4 linked regions of the Homo sapiens genome follow. Changing the gene in region 1 together with any one later gene gives a genetic interaction. Each region holds a gene or a part of one and is shown in the gene's direction. Other genes may lie near its edges.

The links. A genetic interaction does not mean that the proteins touch.
Region 2: changes in MCM2 (region 1) and MED12 together harm fitness less than expected from each alone (positive genetic interaction), as found in Homo sapiens cells (one large-scale study listed by BioGRID).
Region 3: changes in MCM2 (region 1) and RTF1 together harm fitness less than expected from each alone (positive genetic interaction), as found in Homo sapiens cells (one large-scale study listed by BioGRID).
Region 4: changes in MCM2 (region 1) and CNOT1 together harm fitness more than expected from each alone (negative genetic interaction), as found in Homo sapiens cells (one large-scale study listed by BioGRID).

Annotation. Positions count from the first base shown.
Region 1 is NC_000003.12:127,615,411-127,618,910, forward strand, and holds part of MCM2 (DNA replication licensing factor MCM2), read left to right. Parts: intron 1-451; coding exon 452-545; intron 546-1,457; coding exon 1,458-1,708; intron 1,709-1,868; coding exon 1,869-1,995; intron 1,996-2,558; coding exon 2,559-2,671; intron 2,672-3,500. UniProt on the Homo sapiens protein: Acts as a component of the MCM2-7 complex (MCM complex) which is the replicative helicase essential for 'once per cell cycle' DNA replication initiation and elongation in eukaryotic cells.
Region 2 is NC_000023.11:71,121,596-71,125,095, forward strand, and holds part of MED12 (mediator of RNA polymerase II transcription subunit 12), read left to right. Parts: coding exon 1-221; intron 222-604; coding exon 605-751; intron 752-912; coding exon 913-1,012; intron 1,013-1,142; coding exon 1,143-1,279; intron 1,280-1,499; coding exon 1,500-1,631; intron 1,632-1,998; coding exon 1,999-2,125; intron 2,126-2,563; coding exon 2,564-2,793; intron 2,794-3,168; coding exon 3,169-3,249; intron 3,250-3,380; coding exon 3,381-3,500. UniProt on the Homo sapiens protein: Component of the Mediator complex, a coactivator involved in the regulated transcription of nearly all RNA polymerase II-dependent genes.
Region 3 is NC_000015.10:41,476,095-41,479,594, forward strand, and holds part of RTF1 (RNA polymerase-associated protein RTF1 homolog), read left to right. Parts: intron 1-351; coding exon 352-429; intron 430-1,070; coding exon 1,071-1,192; intron 1,193-1,363; coding exon 1,364-1,421; intron 1,422-2,453; coding exon 2,454-2,531; intron 2,532-3,008; coding exon 3,009-3,104; intron 3,105-3,332; exon of another isoform or gene 3,333-3,397; intron 3,398-3,500. UniProt on the Homo sapiens protein: Component of the PAF1 complex (PAF1C) which has multiple functions during transcription by RNA polymerase II and is implicated in regulation of development and maintenance of embryonic stem cell pluripotency.
Region 4 is NC_000016.10:58,623,327-58,626,826, reverse strand, and holds part of CNOT1 (CCR4-NOT transcription complex subunit 1), read left to right. Parts: intron 1-3,500.

The DNA of each region.
Region 1 (3,500 bases):
GTGCCACATTTATTGCATTGACGAGGCAGGCACTTGCATGAACTGTCGCATTTGTACCCACCCTTCTGTGAGTTGGATGTTGCCATCTCTCTTTTCCATATGAAGAAACTGAGGCTTGAGGTAGGCCAGTGCCATGACAGACCTGGTTCTGGTCTTATTTCTGCTCTTGGTCTGTGATCTTGGGAAAGGCCTTTCTGAAATATGTCAAGATTAGGGGTTCAGATGAAGGTTCTTCTAAACTCCAAAGTTCTGTGACTCTTGGGAAGAGCCAACTAATGAAAAGCTTTAGAGTCGGGCACGGCTTGATACCAGGGCCTGATGCAGTTGCAGCAGCTGTGGAAGTGGGTGTCTTTGAGCTGGGGATGTCGTGGTTCCCTGATGCCAGAGCATGTGGGTGACCTACTCTGTGAGTATCTGTTCCCATTCTTGTCGGTCTCCCTCCCTTTCTCAGATCTTTGCCAGCATTGCTCCTTCCATCTATGGTCATGAAGACATCAAGAGAGGCCTGGCTCTGGCCCTGTTCGGAGGGGAGCCCAAAAACCCAGGTGAGCACCCACCTTTCCTCTGCAGGGGTGTTAGCAGCTTTCTCTTTGGGGAGCCAGCATTCAAAGAAGGACACAGTGTTTTTAAAGCCTGGGTGCTGGGGAGAAAGAATGCATTAAAAGATGGTCTGGCTGGGCGTGACTCATTCTTCAAGGGAGAGGGTGGCCCTGAGTTGGGCATTCTGGGTGTTGGGCTGTTGGTCAGGGAGCCAGTGTCTGCCTGCTTTTGTGATTTAAGCAAATGAGTCTTTGCTTCTCTTCTATGTAAAAAATACTTTGTCTTTTAAAAACCTGTTTTAAGTACAAAAATACTATTGACACATGAGTTTGTATTTATATTACACTTTTATAGAACACTAAAAGTCATGGGTGAGGCTGATTTCCCCATTGACCCCCACTTCTCTTCCTAGTCCCTCCCTTTGTGGCCATTTACAATTACACAGCAACCACAGGGTTTCATGACTACACGTGTTTATTTGTACAAGCGCAGCGTCCCCTGTGTGTGCCCAGTGCTGTGCCTGTGCGCAGTGCATCCCACCGAGCTCTCCCGCTCAGTGCCACACTGCAGCATCTTTTCTTGTTAGTGCATACAGAGCAATTGCCTTCTTTTAAATGACTATCATGCCACCAGATAACGCAGTTTATTTAGCTCTCCCTTTGGAGAACACTTAGATTGTTTCTGATATTTCACATTCGCCAAGGACATCTCGTGCAACCCTCCTCTGCACCCGTGTGTGTTTCCCTGGGAGTGCCCAGAGTGGGACTGCATGGCGTAGGGCATTGTATCCCTTTCTAGAGGGACTGTGCCTTACCATTCCTAACAAGTAGGTTGAGGAATTGGTGGGGGATGCAACTGTGCCCTCCTCCTCTCACTTCCCACTCTCCCCCTCCCCCGCTTCTACTCATCCCCTCCAGGTGGCAAGCACAAGGTACGTGGTGATATCAACGTGCTCTTGTGCGGAGACCCTGGCACAGCGAAGTCGCAGTTTCTCAAGTATATTGAGAAAGTGTCCAGCCGAGCCATCTTCACCACTGGCCAGGGGGCGTCGGCTGTGGGCCTCACGGCGTATGTCCAGCGGCACCCTGTCAGCAGGGAGTGGACCTTGGAGGCTGGGGCCCTGGTTCTGGCTGACCGAGGAGTGTGTCTCATTGATGAATTTGACAAGGTGGGTCCCTGGGTCACGGAGGCTGGTGGAACTCAGGGGGTGTGTGTGGGCTTGGGCCTTAGCGACGGGAATGGTGTTAATGGGGTCCATTGGGACCTCATCGGAGACTTAGTAGTAGGGGCGTGAACCATGCTAAGGGTGGGCCATTTTAATCTTGCAGATGAATGACCAGGACAGAACCAGCATCCATGAGGCCATGGAGCAACAGAGCATCTCCATCTCGAAGGCTGGCATCGTCACCTCCCTGCAGGCTCGCTGCACGGTCATTGCTGCCGCCAACCCCATAGGTGCAGCAGGCACCCTGACTGCTGGGGCTGGGGTGGGACACAGGGAGGTCCCGCCTGCTTGAATTGGGAGCCCACGGGGTCCCCAGGAGCCGATCTGAGGAAGTCATTGTGCAGCAGAGGGTTCCCCTCTTCTGCATATCCTGCCAGAGTGGGGAACAGTGAAAGTGGGACCTGGGACACCTGGGTTTCCTGTTGAGTCATGTTCCTGGAATCACCTTGGATGTTCTCAGAAGGCATGGGAGGAGAGCCCAGTGCCCCTCTGGCCAGGATGGAGTTGGCTGTTGGTCTCAGCAGCGAATGCGTAAAAGAACCCAGGCTCTGTCACCCACTGTGTTCTTGGTTTTTCCTCCTGGGGAAGCAGTTATGCTTTCTGTCTAAATTAGGCTATTTTGGGCCCTGGTTAGGGTAAGCTCTTTGCTGTCTCAGACAGCAGGTGCTAAGTACCCACCTATGTCTTCCTCTTCCACTGCCCTCATCCCCTTCTGCCATCAGAGCAGCCTGGGGTCCCTGAGATGGGAGGATAGGGGAATCCACCCTGATGGAGGTGCTCCCCTGTGTTTCAGGAGGGCGCTACGACCCCTCGCTGACTTTCTCTGAGAACGTGGACCTCACAGAGCCCATCATCTCACGCTTTGACATCCTGTGTGTGGTGAGGGACACCGTGGACCCAGTCCAGGTATAGCTCACATGTGCCCGGTTTCCATGAACTGTGGTTTGGGGACCTCAGGTGAGGCTTGGGGTCATACAGTGTGCCCAACACAGGGGACAGGTGCTGCAGGGGCCATAGGCTGTTTTCTAGTCCTGTTCCCTCGGTCTCTTCTCATGTCCAGAAGTCGCCCTGATTTCTCTTTCCTTCACAGCACCCCCGACCCCCACCCTACATAACCCACAATCCACCAAATCCTGTTGTCCCAACTCCTGAGCCTACCCACCTCCCTCACTTCTGCCTCTGACTTGAGGCACTACCATCATCTGAACTGGCCTCCTGGCACCCATGTAGACTGTCTTCCAGTTGAAGGCATAAATCAGATCAGCCCCGTCCTTAACAACTGCTTGAGGCTTTCTGCTGTCATCAGAATAGAATCCAGGGTCCTCCCCTCCGGCCCGCACCCGCCATCTCTGCAGCTACCTCCTCCTCGCTCCCTTCCCTCACCTGCACCTGCACCTGCCCTTCTCTCTCAAAAGGGCCGAGCCTTGGGGCTTGATTGTGCTCCTTGCTCCTGGCAGACGCTCTCCCACACTGTCACATGACTTGCATCTCATTGTCGTCATCTCAGCTCCCTGTCTTTCAGGGAGGGGCTTTGCCGGGCACCCTTAGCTAGAGGCATCTCCTTGGTCCCTTGATCCTATCACTCTATTTTTCTTCTGAGCATTACTTTCCATAATTAATTTTTAAGACTATTTGTCTCCTGTCCCCTTGTGGAGATGAGCCCTGTGGGGACTCTGTCCCATTGTCTGGTTTGCCACCCACACCCAGAACTGCCTGGCACATGGTCAGTGTAGTC
Region 2 (3,500 bases), on another chromosome or scaffold:
CCCGCCGGCTTGCCTACTTCTGTACACGGAGACTGGCCCTGCAGCTGGATGGTGTGAGCAGTCACTCATCTCATGTTATATCTGCTCAGTCAACAAGCACGCTACCCACCACCCCTGCTCCTCAGCCCCCAACTAGCAGCACACCCTCGACTCCCTTTAGTGACCTGCTTATGTGCCCTCAGCACCGGCCCCTGGTTTTTGGCCTCAGCTGTATCCTACAGGTAGGTACTAGGCGGGCCCAAGGAAGCATTGAGAGATAGCCTGAGAAGAATCAGGTGCCCATCCCAGAGAATAGGGGTAATTCCAAATTGGATGTGGGAGTAGGTGCTGAGTACTTGCTTGGAGGTTGTTGTTTCTTGGTAATGGGGTGTTAGTCCCCTTTGGGGGTTTTCACCAGCCTCTCTCTCCCTTCCAAGGCTAAATAGTGGGCCCAAAGCCTTTTAGGAAAGTGAGTGAAGGGAGGGGATCGGGGTGGAGTGATGCCTGTCTTGGGGACCCAGTCAGAATAACTTTGGATCTGGAATCTACGGGTTGGGTCTTAGAATGGGATTCCAGAGGGGTAACCATGGTGAATGAGTTGGACTTAGCTGTTTCTATCTGGTAGACCATCCTCCTGTGCTGTCCTAGTGCCTTGGTTTGGCACTACTCACTGACTGATAGCAGAATTAAGACCGGCTCACCACTTGACCACTTGCCTATTGCCCCGTCCAACCTGCCCATGCCAGAGGGTAACAGTGCCTTCACTCAGCAGGTATGTCTGACCACTAGCCTGGTACTCTCAGATTGGGCTATGAGGCTAAATTACTCTTTCAGAAGTAGTGATTTGGAGTCTAGTACTATTCTTCTAGCCTGGGGCTCTGGCCTTTTATATGCCTTGGTACATCCTTGTAGCCTTCCTTTTTAACATTGCAGGTCCGTGCAAAGTTGCGGGAGATCGAGCAGCAGATCAAGGAGCGGGGACAGGCAGTTGAAGTTCGCTGGTCTTTCGATAAATGCCAGGAAGCTACTGCAGGTATGTGTCAGAGAACAGATAATAGGAAATATGTTTGAGGAAAGGATGGGGATAGTAAGGACATGTAGATCTAAGAGCCAGAATGCACCGGGCCTCTGGTTCAGTCCCCTTTACCACTTTTCCTCCTTAGGCTTCACCATTGGACGGGTACTTCATACTTTGGAAGTGCTGGACAGCCATAGTTTTGAACGCTCTGACTTCAGCAACTCTCTTGACTCCCTTTGTAACCGAATCTTTGGATTGGGACCTAGCAAGGATGGGCATGAGGTAAGCGAAAAGGGGAATAGAAGGAGCAAAAAACATTGCAAGAGCAATAATATGTCTGAGAGGGAAGTCATGGTGAGGCATTGAAAGCAGAGCATATCTGCAGAAATGATCTTACTGGGCCCAGGATGTTTTATGATAGAGCCCAGTCTTTAGGAAATTGGAACTCATTTCTTTGTCCCCACCCCTACCTTACTCCTCCTTCTCTTCCTTTGTTCTCCAGATCTCCTCAGATGATGATGCTGTGGTGTCATTGCTATGTGAATGGGCTGTCAGCTGCAAGCGTTCTGGTCGGCATCGTGCTATGGTGGTAGCCAAGCTCCTGGAGAAGAGACAGGCGGAGATTGAGGCTGAGGTTAGAGGGCAGAGATAAGAGAACAAGATTGGCCAATGGGAAGGAATTTACTGCGGTTGGAGACCGAGAGATGGAGGTGGTGGAGGGACCAGAGTTGAAGGTGTGAGAACAGAGTAAAGAAGCAAAAGAGAACCTAAAGGCAAAGTTACGGACGTGAGGCGAAAGTAGAGAAGAGTGGATTGTAGTAAGAGTTAGAGATAACATCAAGGCTTCAGTTGGGAGGTGGTAAAGAACATGGAGGTCAGCAGGGGAATGAAAGTGAAAAGCATGGGGTAGAGGTCAAGCAGGTGGTAGTTTAAGGCCTACACATTGAGGAGTGAAGAAGCAGGTAAAAGTCAGTTCTACAATTTGTTCTGTCATCTTGCAGCGTTGTGGAGAATCAGAAGCCGCAGATGAGAAGGGTTCCATCGCCTCTGGCTCCCTTTCTGCTCCCAGTGCTCCCATTTTCCAGGATGTCCTCCTGCAGTTTCTGGATACACAGGCTCCCATGCTGAGTACGGACCCCTACCACTCTCTAGTTACCTCTGCCTAGACTCAGTTACCCACCACTGTCATCAGAAAGCATAATTAACAGCCCTCTGGTCTATATTTCTCTCTTGGGCTCTATGCAGAATGACTTTTAGATGTAGTTCTAGTGATCCTCTTTAACTGGTCATCTTACAGTTAAACAGAGTAGAGAAATACAGAGAAGGATAAAAACAAGAGCTTGTGATTGAAGCATTTTCACTGCATAAATCGCAACAAAGATGTTACATTCCTTTCTGAGATGATGTGTGGGACAGCATGTGGGGTAACCAACCACACTTTGTCCCTCAACAATTTCTGGGATTTCTATTTGATCACTCTTATTATTGCCTTAGGTGTGTCCCTCTCTCTTTTGGCCCACCTTTTTGTGTTCTCCTAACTTATGTTTCCTCATTCCCTTCCTCCAGCGGACCCTCGAAGTGAGAGTGAGCGGGTGGAATTCTTTAACTTAGTACTGCTGTTCTGTGAACTGATTCGACATGATGTTTTCTCCCACAACATGTATACTTGCACTCTCATCTCCCGAGGGGACCTTGCCTTTGGAGCCCCTGGTCCCCGGCCTCCCTCTCCCTTTGATGATCCTGCCGATGACCCAGAGCACAAGGAGGCTGAAGGCAGCAGCAGCAGCAAGCTGGAAGTGAGTGGGCTTTTCCTTGCACTAGATCGTTTCTTCTGACATTTCCATCTTCATGGCTCCCAGGGGCCTCTAAGAGCCTCTTTTGCCTGGGGGAGGGGGGTAGTATTTTTCTTAGCACTTGGTGATTGACCAAGCACTCTCACATCAATTGTTTCATTGGTTCCTCCCATCAGCCTTGTGAGGTACTCTTATCCCCATTTTCAAACTGAAGAAAACAGAGGCCTATACTGGTTAAGTGATTGGATGAGGCTTGACTCCAGATCCTGTGCTTTCCCCAATCTGGTCTTCTCTCTCCACTTCCCCAATGAAGTTTTACAGATGGTGGGAGCCACTCCCTAGGGCTAAAGCAACTTCGCTTATGTTCTATGCCCTCAGGATCCAGGGCTCTCAGAATCTATGGACATTGACCCTAGTTCCAGTGTTCTCTTTGAGGACATGGAGAAGCCTGATTTCTCAGTAAGTTCAATCCTGAGCGTGGCAGAATCTGGATCCTTGGATCTTCCCATTATGCCTGCTTTTGGCATGTTTTTTTGCCCCCTCATCCACTTTCCTTCTTCTCATGTTCTGCTTTCTCACCTTTCTCTCAGTTGTTCTCCCCTACTATGCCCTGTGAGGGGAAGGGCAGTCCATCCCCTGAGAAGCCAGATGTCGAGAAGGAGGTGAAGCCCCCACCCAAGGAGAAGATTGAAGGGACCCTTGGGGTTCTT
Region 3 (3,500 bases), on another chromosome or scaffold:
TGTATTCTGCTAGGCTTGATCCTTCAAGAGTTTTCCTTTTCTAAAACATCTTGGTAAAATTATTTGATCTCTGTTCTCTTGGACAGTGGCTAGCCTTACACTACCAGGCCCTTGGGCTGCTGTTTCTTGGTGCATGTTCCTTCAGCCTGTCCCAGAAGAATCTCCGTGACCCAGGAAGCAGCATAGTATCCCTTGGAATGAACCCGCTCTCTCTCTCTCTGGGGCATGACACTGCTGTAGGAAGAGCAGCCCCTTTGTAACTAGCTGTTTGCATCCAAAATGGGCTCACTTAGCCTGTCTACAAAAATAGCTTAGGAATACCTCACTGCTGGTATCTCCTCTCTGGTACAGATTGTAAAAGAGAAAGAAAGGTTCAGAAAAGCTCCACCCAACTACGCTATGAAGAAGACTCAGCTACTGAAGGAAAAGGTAAGGAGTTGTACTCGAGCCTCTTTCCTCATCCTGTAAGGAGATGTGGAAATCAAACTTGTTCATCCTCTGCCAAGTTAGTGGTGGTAGGATTGGGAGAAAATTCTGGGCTCGATTATAAGCAACACAGTGTGTTCTTGGCACCTGGGCAACGTTCCTTGGCCATTTTCCATTCCCTAAATTCAAACTCATCTTCTGCGTGTGTGCCAGTCTTCTTACTTTCTAGTCACTTCAGTTTCCTTTGTAATAAAATAGACCCTGGGGTGGTATTTAACACTGAGTCTGAACAGACAGATGACACTGTCAAGGCCACCTGTGGCTGGTGATTTTCCATTCTTCACACTGGGTTGGGGTGGGCCTTGTTATGGTGGTTTAGCCACCCTGTGAGGCCTGGGGTTCTACTGCCACCAGGGACCCACAGCCAGGTAGCTGTATGGGAAGGTGTTCCCCACTGTACTGTGCACTACTATAATATAAATTATATCTTGTATTTGTAAAGTACTTCTACAGTATTCTTCCACATCTCCTGTCCTTTGCTCACCACATGAGATATCTTTGCCTGTGCTGGAAGTAAGGGGATACTTGATATGGAGTCAGTTGTATGTAGCCAAGAACGAACTCACACATCTCTCTATGTGTAGGCCATGGCTGAGGACCTGGGGGATCAGGACAAGGCCAAACAAATCCAAGATCAACTGAATGAGCTGGAGGAACGGGCAGAGGCCCTGGACCGCCAGCGGACCAAGAACATATCCGCTATCAGGTGTGTTATGGAGCCTATTTTTGGCCCGCAGACCTTGGCCAAAATTATCAGGCAAGCCTGTGGCCTGTACACTCTGTGCTGCACTGACCCCATAGATATCTGAGTTCAGGGCTCAGTGGTTCCCTCCCTCCCTTGTTTCACAGCCACTGACTCATCCCTCTTACCCCACAGTTACATCAACCAGCGGAACCGGGAGTGGAACATTGTAGAGTCTGAGAAGGCCCTTGTGGTAAGAAAACTTTATCTGAATCACTAAAACAAAGTTAATTAATAAACCATGACATCTTTTCTACATCTTGCCTAAGTTTATTTTTTAATTATTGAAATAACGTAGGCACTTAACGTATACACACTCTCTCTGTATGTCCACGTACATCGATATAATTTATTCATAATGAAAAGCAGCAGTCTTCTGCCCTGTCCTACCTCTTCCCACCCTTAGATTCTACTCCACAGGTATTTGTTTTTTCTCAATTTCTGTTTCTTGGTTGTTTCCCCCATATCTACTCTGGTATTCTTGAAGGGAAAAGGATAATATGCCGGGCGCGGTGTCTCACGCCTGTAATCCCAGCACTTTGGGAGGCCGAGGCGGGTGGATCACCTGGGGTCAGGAGTTTGAAACCAGCCTGGCCAGCATGACAAAACCCTGTCTCTCCTAAAAATACAAAAATGAGCCGGACATGGTGGTGCACGCCTGTAATCCCAGCTACTTGGGAGGCTGAGGCACGAGAATCACTTGAACCTGGGATGTGGAGATTGCAGTGAGCTGTCGTGCCACTGCACTTTAGCCTGGGCAAGAGAGCGAGAATCCATTTAAAAAATAAAAAAAATTAGCCGGGCATGGTGGCTCACGCCTGTAATCCCAGCACTTTGGGAGGCTGAGGTGGGTGGATCACCTGAGGTCAGGAGTTTGAGAGCAGCCTGGCCAACATGGCGAAACCCTGTCTCTACTAAAAATACAAAAATTAGCTGGGTTTGGTGGCTTGCACCTATAGTCCCAGCTGCTGGAGAGGCTGAGGCAGGAGAATCACTTGAACCTGAGAGGCAGCAGATGCAATGAGCTGAGATTGCGTCACTGCACTTCAGCCTAGGCGACAGGGCGAGACTCCATCTCAAAAAAAATTAAAAAAAAAAAAAAAGGAAAAGGATAATAGCTTTTTTTTTTTTCAGTCCCGTGCAAAGACTTATTTGCCTGTGAGCTTATGGTGAATGAGAGGAGGGGCTGGAGGTGCAGTTCTGTGGTGCATGCTTTCTGTTTCAGGCTGAAAGTCACAACATGAAAAACCAACAGATGGATCCCTTTACTCGGCGGCAGTGCAAGCCTACCATCGTTTCTAATGTGAGTGCTGAAAGAGGACATTTTAGTCAGGACCTAGATTCTAGGACACAAAATGAATTCCATTAGGAAATTAATAATGAAGTTAAAAATAATGTTTTCTTAGCTGGGATTTGCTTGTCTGAAGCTCTTGGGTCTGGATACTTCCTTTTTTATCTTGCTATAGGACATATCGGTAGTGAAAACGTGGCATGGATTTATAAAAACCTAGTGACTGATCCTCCTGTATCAGGGTGGGTTTACAGTGCAGCAGACATTAGTAATGTGTCCCTTAGCTAGGGCCTGGCTGGGCTGGGCTTGGCTTTCAAGCTTGTAATTGCCTTTTTTTTTTTTTTTTTTGCTGCTTTGAGGAAAACCCCACTAGCTGCTGATGGGTCGGCTGTGGTGCTTGTGATGTTAGTTTGGTAGGTGGGAAAGAATCTGGCAGTAGGACTCTGTGAGTGTCAAGCAATCTCTAAAACAACTTATTTTCTCTCTCAGTCCAGAGACCCAGCTGTTCAAGCTGCCATCTTGGCCCAGCTGAATGCAAAATACGGTTCTGGAGTGTTACCAGATGCTCCAAAGGAAATGAGCAAGGCAAGTGTGGTACCACCCTGTTGCCTGCTGAGTGAGGCTGCTGGCTGAGATACCGAACAAGTACCTTGTCTAGTTTGGGCTTGATTTTTCCACCTTGAGGAACAGGGAGTCCCTCTTGGAGTCCCTTCTCCATCCCAGTTATTTACAGATATAATCAACAGACAACCTTAATTCCAAACCTGACACCACTACTTGCCTAGGGCCTTGACTATGTCCTTCAGCAGCTGGCTTCCAGCCCTCAGCATCCCCTTTTCTGCTGTGTAAAATGAGGGTACTACTGTATACCCTGCCAGCTTCACAGGAGGAGAGATAACATACAAAGATCAGACATTGTAAAAGTGAAAGCTTGTTGAAAATGGCACATTTAAAAGCAGTTTTCTTGCTGGGCGCAGTGGC
Region 4 (3,500 bases), on another chromosome or scaffold:
TGCAAAATATTTGTTATGAGTATTTTGTCCCACATTAACAAAAATAGTAGTCTGCCTTTTTTTTTTTGAGACGGAGTCTCACCCTGTTGCCCAGGCTGGAATGCAGTGGTGCGATCTCAGCTCACTACAACCTCCGCCTCCTGGGTTCAAGCGATTCTCCTGCCCCAGCCTCCCAAGTAGCTGGGATTACAGGCGCGCACCACTGCACCCAGCTAATTTTTGTATTTTTGGTAGAGACGGGGTTTCACTATGTTGGTCAGGCTGGTCTCGAACTCTTGACCTCGTGATCCACCCGCGTCGGCCTCCCAAAGTGCTGGGATTACAGGCATGAGTGACCGTGCCCAGCCTAGTAGTCTGCCATTTTGAAATGCTGTATTTTATGAACTTGGTATATCTTTTTTTTTTTTTTTTTTTTTTTTTGAGACGCAGTCTCGCTCTGTTGCCCAGGCTGGAGTGCAATGGTGGAATCTTGGCTCACTGCAACCCCTGCCTCGCAGGTTCAAGCGATTCTTCTGCCTCAGCCTTCTGAGTAGCTGGATTACAGGTGCCTGCCACCACAGCCAGCTAGTTTTTGTATTTTTAGTAGAGAAGAGGTTTCAACGTATTGGCCAGGCTGGTCTCGAATTCCTGACCTCAGGTGATCTGCCTGCCTCAGTCTCCCGAAGTGCTGGGATTACAGGCGTGAGCCATAGCACCCGGCCTGAACTTGGTATATACTTTTATAAAAGAAAAGACTTTCAAGTCATATATATTAACTGAGGCATTTCTTTAATGACCCTCTGACCAAACTAAAACTTCCTGCTGTGAAGTTTCAAAATGGCATCCCATTGAGTGACTCTATATATAGAAGAATCTAGCAATTCCTTTTCTGTTTGCTCACAATTTTAAAGATGAATCTTTGAAAGTTAAAAGGGGCTCAACACCTTCTGCCCCCCAGTGTATACAATAGTTTTTTTTTTTTTTTTTTTTGAGACAGGGTTTCACTTCAATGCCTAGGCTGGAGTGCAGCGGCACAATCCCTGCTCACTGCAGCCTTGATATTCTGGTCTCAGGTCAGTCTCTCACCTCAGCCCCTGAGTAGCTGGGACTACAGGTGCATGCTAACCACACGTGTCAAAAATTGTTTTTTTTCTTTTTTTTTTGAGAGAGAGTTTTGCTCTTCTCCCTCAGGCTGGAGTGCAGTGGTATGATCTTGGCTTGCTGCAACTTCTGCCTCCCGGGTTCAAGTGATTCTCCTGCCTCAGCTTCCCAAGTAGCTGGGATTACAGGTGCGCGCCATCATGCCTGGCTAATTTTATATATATATGTTTTTTTAAAACAGGGTTTTGCTCTTGTTGCCCAGGCTGGAGTGCAATAGTGTGATCTCTGCTCAGTGCAACCTCCGGCTCCTGGGTTCAAGTGATTCTCCTGCCTCAGCCTCCTGAATAGCTGGGATTACAGGCGCACGCCGCCATGCCCGGCTAATTTTTTGTATTTAGTAGAGACAGGGTTTCACCACGTTAGTCAGGCTGGTCTCGAACTCCTGACCTCAGGTGATCCACCTGCCTCGGCCTCCCAAAGTGCTGTGATTACAGGCGTGAGCCACTGCCCAGGCCTGTATTTTTAGTAGAGATGGGGTTTTACCATGTTGGCCATCTGGTCTTGAACTCCTGACCTCAAGTGATCTACCTGCCTCAGCTTCCCAAAGTTCTGGGATTACAGGTGTGAGCCACTGCGCCTGGCCTAATTTTTGTATTTTTTTGGTAGAGGTGAGGTTTCACTGTGTTTCCCAGGCTGGTCTGGAACTCCTGGGCTCAAGCGATCTGTCCACCAAGACCTCCCAGAGTGCCGTGATTACAGATGTGAGCCACCATACTGGCCTATGATACTTTTTTTTTTTAAGTGTACTTTTCACTCAAATTTGCAAGAATGTAGCAAACCAAATAAAGCATTGTTCACTGGAAAGCGTAGTTTGAGAAGGCAGTAATTAGAGGTGTAGACTTAATATGAAGCCATTTGTTGAGTTTTTTCGTTTGTTTGTTTGTTTTTTAAGATGGAGTCTTGCTCTGTTGCCCAGGCTTGAGAGCAGTGGTGTGATCTCGGCTCACTGCAACGTCCGCCTCCCAGGTTCAAGTGATTCTCCTCCCTCAGCCTCCCGAGTAGCTGGGATTACAGGCGCGTGCCACCACGGCTGGGTAATTTTTGTCTTTTTAGTAGAGATCTGGTTCACCATGTTGGTCAGGCTGGTCTCGAACTCCTGACCTTGTGATCCACTCATCTCAGCCTCCCAAAGTGCTGGGATTATAGGCGTAAGCCGTCGCACCCACAGTGATTTAAAGGAATGTAGTGTATATATTTGAGAAATGCATTTATATCTTTAATTCTGGAAAACACAGCATTAACTAACCTCCAGCATACCTGTTGCTTAACTGTGTTACAGTTGTTACAGGGAAATTCCTGAAATGTTGAATACGTTGCAACCATGTAGGATAATTTTTTGTTGATTCTGAGAACATAAACTTTCTTCCAGTATATTCTCACACCACCAGATGTGTGGGGTTTTCCCCTGCGCATCAAGCAAGCTATTCAGCAGTGGACACCACATGGGTATCCTCTAATTCAGTATTATTCTGACACGGTGTACCTGAAGATAGCATCAGATCCCACAGGTTGAAAGCTCAAGTCCCATAGACAGTCCCCCACTTCCAATGCTAATCTCAAGTCCCAGGTGGTTTTACCTGTGTTTCTGACCAACTGACTATAAATTGAGTTCCTAATACCCCCTTCTTTTGTTCAGTTAACTTGCTAGAGTGGCTTATGTAGAACTCTCGGAAATACTTAGGGTTTTTTTTTTTTGGAGCCGGAGTCTTGGCTCTGTCACCCAGGCTGGAGTGCAGTGGCACGATCTAGGCTTGCTGCAACCTCTATCGCTCTGGTTCAAGCGATTCTTCTGCCTCGGCCTCCCAAGTAGCTGGGATTATAGGCATGCGCCACCACACCTGGCTAATTTTTTATATTTTTGGTAGAGATGGGGTTTCATCATGTTGGTCAGGCTGGTCTCGAATTCTTGACTTCAAGCGATCGACCCACCTCAGCCTCCCAAAGTGCTGGGATTACAGACAGGCATGAGCCACTGTACCCGGCCAACACTTAGGTTCAAGAGTTTATTATAAAGGATATGGATGAGGAGGTGCGTAGGAGAAGTAAGGGCCGCGGAGCTTCCATGCCCTCCCCTGGCTACACTGTGCCTCAGCTATCTGGAAGCTCTCTGAACCCAGTCATTTATGGGCTTTTATGGAGGCTTCATTACAGAGGCACAGTTGGTTAAATCATTGACCTTTGGTGGTCACCTTAACCCTTAGCACCTTTTCCCTCCCTGGAGTTTGGAGGAGGTGGGGCTAAAAGTCCTAATCCTCTCATCTTGCCTTGATCTTTCAGGTGACCAGCACCCATGCAGAAACTACCTAGAAGTTGCCAAGCTATCAGTCAACTCAGCATACAAAAAGAAACTTACCATTCTA